Homo sapiens: one gene and its partner. The protein of the gene in region 1 purifies or fractionates together with the protein of each later gene. This does not show direct contact. Each region holds a gene or a part of one and is shown in the gene's direction. Other genes may lie near its edges. The genes, in order: NAA15 and FAM114A2.

Region 1 (3,830 bases):
AACAGTATTAAAACAAGAAATGAATCGTCTTTTTGGAGCAACGAATCCAAAGAATTTTAATGAAACTTTTCTGAAAAGGAATTCTGATTCATTGCCACACAGATTATCAGGTAATCACTTTATTTTATCCTTAGCCTTCTAAAACAACTTCAGTAATTTTAATGAATCAACAATAATATAAGGTACATGTTTTTAGAATGGAAGAGGCAGTGTGTATATGTTACATTGTGATCGTATGAAAACAGGCAGCTTAAATAAGCTTCCTAAGCTGGGCACAGTGGCACATACCGGTAGTCCCAGCTACTCAGGATGCTGAGGCAGAAGGATCACTTGAGCCCAGGAATTTGAGGCCAGTCTGGGCAACATAATGATACCCTGTTTCAAATCAAAACAAAACCAAACATATATATATATAATATATATATATATATAATATATATTATATATATATGCGCTTCCTATACATTTTTTAATTTCTTACGGCAAAATAATCACTACAAATCAAAGTCAGTGGTCTCTTCTGGTTCAGCATTGGCATTACAAAGAAGCAGGTGTAACTAAACTTAAATGTATATCATAAAATGAAGGTAGAGCTTTCTTTTATTTCTTTTTTCATCATTGGGCTCTTAAAATTCACTCAGATAGGACCATCGTCTTCCATTTCTCATTCTTATGTAGGTATCAGAGTTGACAGTGCTAAACACCTGAAATTATCTTCACAGTTTGTGAGAAATCTAAGTCAAGGGTCTGTGCCAATGAGCCAAAATCTGACCTTTATGGGACCATGTGGGTAGTACTTTTCAAATACTTGGCTTAAGCCCAGCAGCTTTGTATACCTTTGTGGAATCCTGAATTCAGCATTTTGGCTCACACTGTTGAGATAGGATAGTCCCCCAACCTCCACATTATTCTGCTTATTTCAGAAAGAAGACTATCATGGTCCTACCACAAAAATACAAGTATTATTAGAATGCTTGTGTTTCTTCATAGTCTCCTTTACTGTGCATGTGTTGCATATACATTCTATTTTATTGGGTAGATATATGTGGTATACCTCTATTGTTCTCTTTCTTTGGATGGTTAAGCTAATCCCCTTAGCATTATTATTTTTTGAATAACAGTATCTCAAGTAGCTGTTCCCATTCTTCTAATAAAGTGCCACACCCTCTGCATATATATCTTGTTTGCCTTTTATATTTAAATAAGTAGAGGATAAGATGTTGGTTTTACCTTGAAATAAATTTCCTATTTCCCTCTCATTTAGCTGCCAAAATGGTATATTACTTAGATCCTTCTAGTCAGAAGCGAGCTATAGAGTTGGCAACAACACTTGATGAATCTCTCACTAACAGAAACCTCCAGGTAAAGAGTTTTTCATAATCTCTCTGTAAGAATACTTAACTACTTTTTTCACCAAGAGAAATAATTGGGTATTTATACACACTGTTTTTTAAATCATTATGAATCTGGGTCAGAAACAACTTATCTTAAAATTTATTTAGGCTGCTTGGCATTCAGTAACTAGTTTCACATCTGTAGCTTGGAATAACTTTTTAAGAAATATGTTTTAATAAAATCATATACATTCCATCGTCATTTTTGGATTTCATTTCATATCTCTGCATTTCTGAGCAAGCAGTGGTCTCAGTGGAGATTCTAACATGTTTAAAATGTATTTTGGCTAGGCGTTTTGGTTCATGGCCTATATTCCCAGCACTTTGGCAGGCCAAAGTGGGCAGATCACTGCAGCTCATGAGTTCGAGACAAGCCAGGGCAACATAGTGAGACCCCATCTCTTAAAAAAAAAAATCAGTCAGATGTGGTGGCACTGTATTCCCAGCTACTTGGGGGACTGAGATATGAGGAACACTTGAGCCTGAAAGGTTGGAGCTGCAGTGGGCTGTGATTGTGACGCTGTACTCCAGTATGGACAACAGGGCAAGACCCTATCTCAAAATAAAGAAAGATGTATTTACTAGGGGCTAAATAAAAATACTTATTTTGTAACTTGTAATACAATATGAGATTAAGTTAAATAAAAATTAATATGGGTGTATTGTAAAATACTGTAGTTTAAACTAGAAACAAAGGGATAGCTACCTCATGTTATAATTTGCCAGATAAACATGTATATGCTGAAAGACAGTTATTAATAAATATATTCATTTAATAGCAAATGAAGGCAGTATCTTTAAGAAAGAAAAATTAGACTTGTTTGTTTTACCATTTAGATTAGAACCTGGATTTAAAGTTCTAATCTAGGTCCTTTGTAACCTGGATTTAAGTTGCTTTGTAACCTGGCAAAGTTTGTAGGGATTTTTGCATGTGGAAACTAAGTAGCTTTTCTAAGTGAAAATATTAAGAAAGCAAACATGAGAAATGCAAATCAACATGAATCAACAAAAAAGATAAGAAGCAGACTTACTTAGGGGTTTGGTTGAAAGAATTACTCATTTTCATGAACTAATTTTTCTTGCAAATAATCACTTCATGTTTGAGACACTCTTTTCTGCTTAGTTATTGGATGTGCCTTAAGTTGCTCTTTAATTTGAACACAATGTTGAATACAGTGTTTGAGTTTGCTGGCTGGCTCTAAGCTTTCAAAAATATTAGAAGGCATATGTGCAGTAATTGGTATTGGCATTGTAAATCTAGATGTTTATACCCAGGGCCAGGCTAGGCTGAGGTAACATTGCTGCCTAAGGTCATACGCTTGCTGAGAGTGAGTGGCTTTTTAAATGTAGCACTCCATATACCTTGCTTGCCTCACCATAGTCCCATTCCTGTTTCTGCAGTCATCCCTGTTTAGCCTTTTGTATAAATCCTGCAATTCTGGAGAAATGGTTAAATTAGGCCTTGAAGAACATTCTAATAGAATGCATATGCAGGAGTAAATAGCTAAATATGTGTATTTATTTCTTATTTTAGAAATCTCTTGCTGTTGAAATGTCTAATAAATTCCCAGTAAGAACCTTTTTTTGACCAGTTACAACATGACTTTTTTTCTTTCCTTAGACATGTATGGAGGTATTGGAAGCCTTGTATGATGGTAGCCTAGGAGACTGTAAAGAAGCTGCTGAAATTTATAGAGCAAATTGTCATAAGCTTTTCCCTTATGCTTTGGCTTTCATGCCTCCTGGATATGAAGAGGATATGAAGATCACAGTTAATGGAGATAGTTCTGCAGAAGCTGAAGAACTGGCCAATGAAATTTGAACATCACTAAACAAGCAAATGGAATGACTTTGGACCATATCTAGTATATAATATTTTTGTCACGCACCTGCTGCATTGCTCTAACTTACACAGAATGAGAGGAGTAAATGTTCTTGCCTTCAAATAGTGTTTTACGTTTTTTATCCTGCTGAAAAAGTATATATAAAATATCTAACATTACAGGATAGAGGTTCAGTTTCTTAAAAAATTAAAGCTGCTAAAATTGAGTGGTTAAAAAAGATACCTTATCCTATTCCTCCCCACCCACCCATGTTTTTAAACTAATTTATATAAAATCTGGAGGCTGTTACAGCTAACAAAGCAGGTGTGTGGCAGAAATATTACTTTAAATTTGTCTTGTGAGATTTTACTATATCTCAGACAGCATAAATGCTGTTTTAGCACTGGATTCTTTCACTGAGCACAAAGAGTTGTTGGGGCTTTAGCATCTGACTGATTTTGTTACGGGGTTGATTCTGACCATAGGAAGTATGCAATGTGAATCACTATTTACAGAGAAACCTACAACAGATGCTTGATGTTGTAGAAACTGGGACATATAGATACCAAGCAAAATTATAAGAAACCTATAAGGTGTTCAATACGCTTGTGTT
Region 2 (3,830 bases), on another chromosome or scaffold:
TAAGATATACACTAACTGACCTTTTTTTTTTAAAAAAGTGGAATCTAATGAATACAGTTTTGCCTTTTCTTCATGAAATAATCAGTTATAAACATTAAAAGTGAATGGAAAAATTCTCTCAGGTTTCATTAAGACATAGGGCCAATCACCCATGTAGTAGGTTAAATCAGTGATGAACAAAGTGTGGTCTGTAGACCCTTGAATTCCCAGAACCCTTTCAGGGAGTCTATGAGTCAGAACTCTGCATCATAATACTAAGATGTTGTCTACTTAGGAATTTTTTAAAAATTATAATGAGTTTTTTTTCTGCTTTGGCATTTGTGCTGTTGGTGAATAACAATGATGCATAAAATTGCTGGTGCCATAACATGGATCAAGATGTTAGCAGACTCTACTAGTGTCATTGCATTTTCATTGCCATGCATTGGCAGTTAAAAAAAAAAGTGCCAGTTTTATTTAATCTTGTCCTTGATGAAGCAGTAAAAATTATTAATTTTATTAAATCTTTACCTTTAAGTATGCATCTTACAAATATTCTGTGTGATGCCTACTGAAGTATGATGGTTGTCTCAGGAAAAGCACTTACATTATTTGAGTTGTGAGCTGAACTATGTGCTTTTTTCGTGGAATACCATTTTTACTTGAAAGGATAACAGTCACAGAGACTATTCAGAATAGGATAATTGGTACACATTTTCCTGAAAATGAATGAAGTGAACCTTTTCTTCAAGGAGAGCAACTAATTTATTTGTGAGTCATGATAAAAATTTAAGTGAAGGTTGAAACTTTGTAAAACATATTTGCTGCTGTGGTGAGCTTGACAGCTTCCCAGTGCTTATAGACTCTTCTTATGAAATTGGTGGTGATCATATTTGTTAAAATATCACTTTTTGATATTTTAACAAGGAAATGTGTCAGCATTTGGAAAGTCTGCATAACTCAGAGAACCAATATTTTCTAAATGTCAAATCACCATGGGTAAAAGACCTAATGGATTTTAATTTAGTGTACAAAATTTTATGATATGGTTTCAGGTATACTGCAATATGGTTCATTGCAACTAATTTTTAAGAAACGACCACTTGTTGAGTTTTAATGTGGTATTAAAGAATATTAATAATGATCTGAAAAGGCTATTAAAATACTTCTTCCCTTTCCAACTATGTATCTTTGTAAAGTTGGATTTTCTTCATATACTTAAAGCAACATAACAGACTGAATATAAAAGTAGATAAGAGAATTTAGCTGTCATCTGTTAAACTAGATATTAAAGAGATTCAACCCTGATGGCACTGTTCTCACTAAACTTTTTCTTTTTTGAAAAATATAGTTTTTTAAAATAAAAAGTAGGTTTATGTTAATAAGTGGTATGGGTTTACTGTTTTGAATGAATTAATAAACACTTTGTTTTAGCTTTATATAAATATTTATAACTTTTTATATGTATATGTATAAAACTTACACTAAAAAAGCTCTTTAATGTTCTCAGAAAGTTTTACAAGAACAAGGTCCTGAGACCAACAAGTTTGAGAATTACCAGATTAAATGACCTAAACTGCAATGCTTTTTAGAAATGTCTCTGATTGCTTTTTAGAATTGTACATCTTTATTTCTTTCTGTTCATTTATCTGTTCATCTTTTACTTCACTGTTAGCTGGCTTCTGATATCCCCTGAATCTTATTTGGTTTTCTATTTCTAATCTGTGGGTGAGAAACCAGGTAACTAATTTTATTTGAGATGTCTATTAAAAGCAAAGAGCTCTGAGTGAGGGTCTTAGAGTCTTTCTTGTGACAGGAAACATAAAGTTAACTGTGTGGATTCTCTACAAACAGGGACTTTTTTTTCTTTTTCTTTTTAAATCAGTTAAGGAGAAGAAATATACATGTATATCATTTATAATTACATAGTTATCTTTACCAGTGCTTTTTGTCTTCTGTTTTTTTCAATTTTTTTTATTTCCATAGGTTATCAGGGAACAGGTGGTGTTTGATTACATAAGTTCTTTACTGGTGATTTGTGAGAATTTGGTGCACCTATCACCTGAGCAGTATACACTGCACCCAATTTGTGCACCTGAGCAGTATACACCACACTCCCTTCCCATCCTTTCCCCCTGAGTCCCCGAAGCCCATTGTGTCATTCTTAAGCCTTTGCATCCTCATAGCTTAGCTCCTACTTGTGAATGAGAGCATATGATGTTTGGTTTTCCATTCCTGAGTTACTTTACTTAGAACAATAGCATCCAGTCTCATCCAGGTCGCTGCGAATGCATTAATTCATTCGTTTTTATGGCTGAGTAGTATTCCATCATGTATATATATACCACAGTTTCTTTATCTACTCGTTGATTGATGGGCATTTGAGTTGGTTCCACATTTTTGCACTTTTGAATTGTGCTGCTTAAACATGCGTGTGCAAGTATCTTTTTCTTTTTTAAATTATTTTATTAGTATACTTTAAGTTTTAGGGTACATGTGCACAACGTGCAGGCCTGTTACGTATGTATACATGTGCCGTGTTGGTTTGCTGCACCCATCAACTCATCATTTATGTTAGGCACTTCTCCCAATGCTATCCCTCCCCCATCCCCTGACCCCACGACAGGCCCAGGTGTGTGATGTTCCCCGCCCTGTGTCCAAGTGTTCTCATTGTTCAGTTCCCACCTATGGGTGAGAACAAGTGGTGTTTGGTTTTCTGTCCTTGTGATAGTTTGCTCAGAATGATGGTTTCCAGCTTCATCCATGTCGCTACAAAGGACATGAACTCATCCTTTTTTATGGCTGCATAGTATTGCATGGTGTATATGTGCCACATTTTCTTAATCCAGTCTATCATTGATGGACATTTGGGTTGGTTCCAAGTCTTTGCTATTGTGAATAGTGCTACAATAAACATATGTGTGCATGTGTCCTCATAGTAGCATGATTTATAATCCTTTGGGTATATATCCAGTAATGGGATCACTGGGTCAAATGGTATTTCTAGTTCTAGATCCTTGAGGAATCACCACACTGTCTTCCACAATGGTTGAACTAGTTTACACTCCCACCAACATTGTAAAAGCATTCCTATTTCTTCACATCCTCTCCAGCACCTGTTGTGTCCTGACTTTTTAATGATCGCCATTCTAACTGGTGTAAGATGGTATCTCATTGTGGTTTTGATTTGCATTTCTCTGATGACCAGTGATGATGAGCATTTTTTCACGTGTCTATTGGCTGCATACATGTCTTCTTTTGAGACATATCTGTTGATATCCTTTGCCCACTTTTTGATGGGGTTGTTTGATTTTTTCTTGTAAATTTGTTTAAGTTCTTTGTAAATTCTGGATATCAGCCCTTTGTCAGATGGGTAGATTGCAAACATCTTCTCCCATTCTGTAGGTTGCCTGTTCACGCTGATGGTAGTTTCTTTTGCTGTGCAGAAGCTCTTTAGTTTAATTAGATCCCATTTATCTGTTTTGGCTTTTGTTGCCATTGCTTTTGGTGTTTTAGTCATGAAGTCCTTGCCCATGCCTATGTCCTGAATGGTATCGCCTAGGTTTTCTTCTAGGGTTTTTATGGGTTTAGGTCTAAGTCTAATCCATCTTGAATTGATTTTTGTATAAGGTGTAAGGAAGGGATCCAGTTTCAGCTTTCTCCATATGGCTAGCCAGTTTTCCCAGCACCATTTATTAAATAGGGAATCCTTTCCCCATTGCTTGTTTTGGTCAGGTTTGTCAAAGATCAGATGGTTGTAGATGTGTGATGTTATTTCTGAGGCCTCTGTTCTGTTCCATTGGTCTATATTTCCCGTTTGGTACCAGTACCATGCTGTTTTGGTTACTGTG

The links.
Region 2: the proteins of NAA15 (region 1) and FAM114A2 fractionate together in Homo sapiens (co-fractionation; one large-scale study listed by BioGRID). This does not show direct contact.

What each region holds. Positions count from the first base shown.
Region 1 is NC_000004.12:139,384,869-139,388,698, forward strand, and holds part of NAA15 (N-alpha-acetyltransferase 15, NatA auxiliary subunit), read left to right. Parts: coding exon 1-110; intron 111-1,264; coding exon 1,265-1,362; intron 1,363-3,015; coding exon 3,016-3,216; 3' UTR 3,217-3,830. UniProt on the Homo sapiens protein: Auxillary subunit of N-terminal acetyltransferase complexes which display alpha (N-terminal) acetyltransferase (NAT) activity. The NAT activity may be important for vascular, hematopoietic and neuronal growth and development.
Region 2 is NC_000005.10:154,021,905-154,025,734, reverse strand, and holds part of FAM114A2 (protein FAM114A2), read left to right. Parts: intron 1-3,830.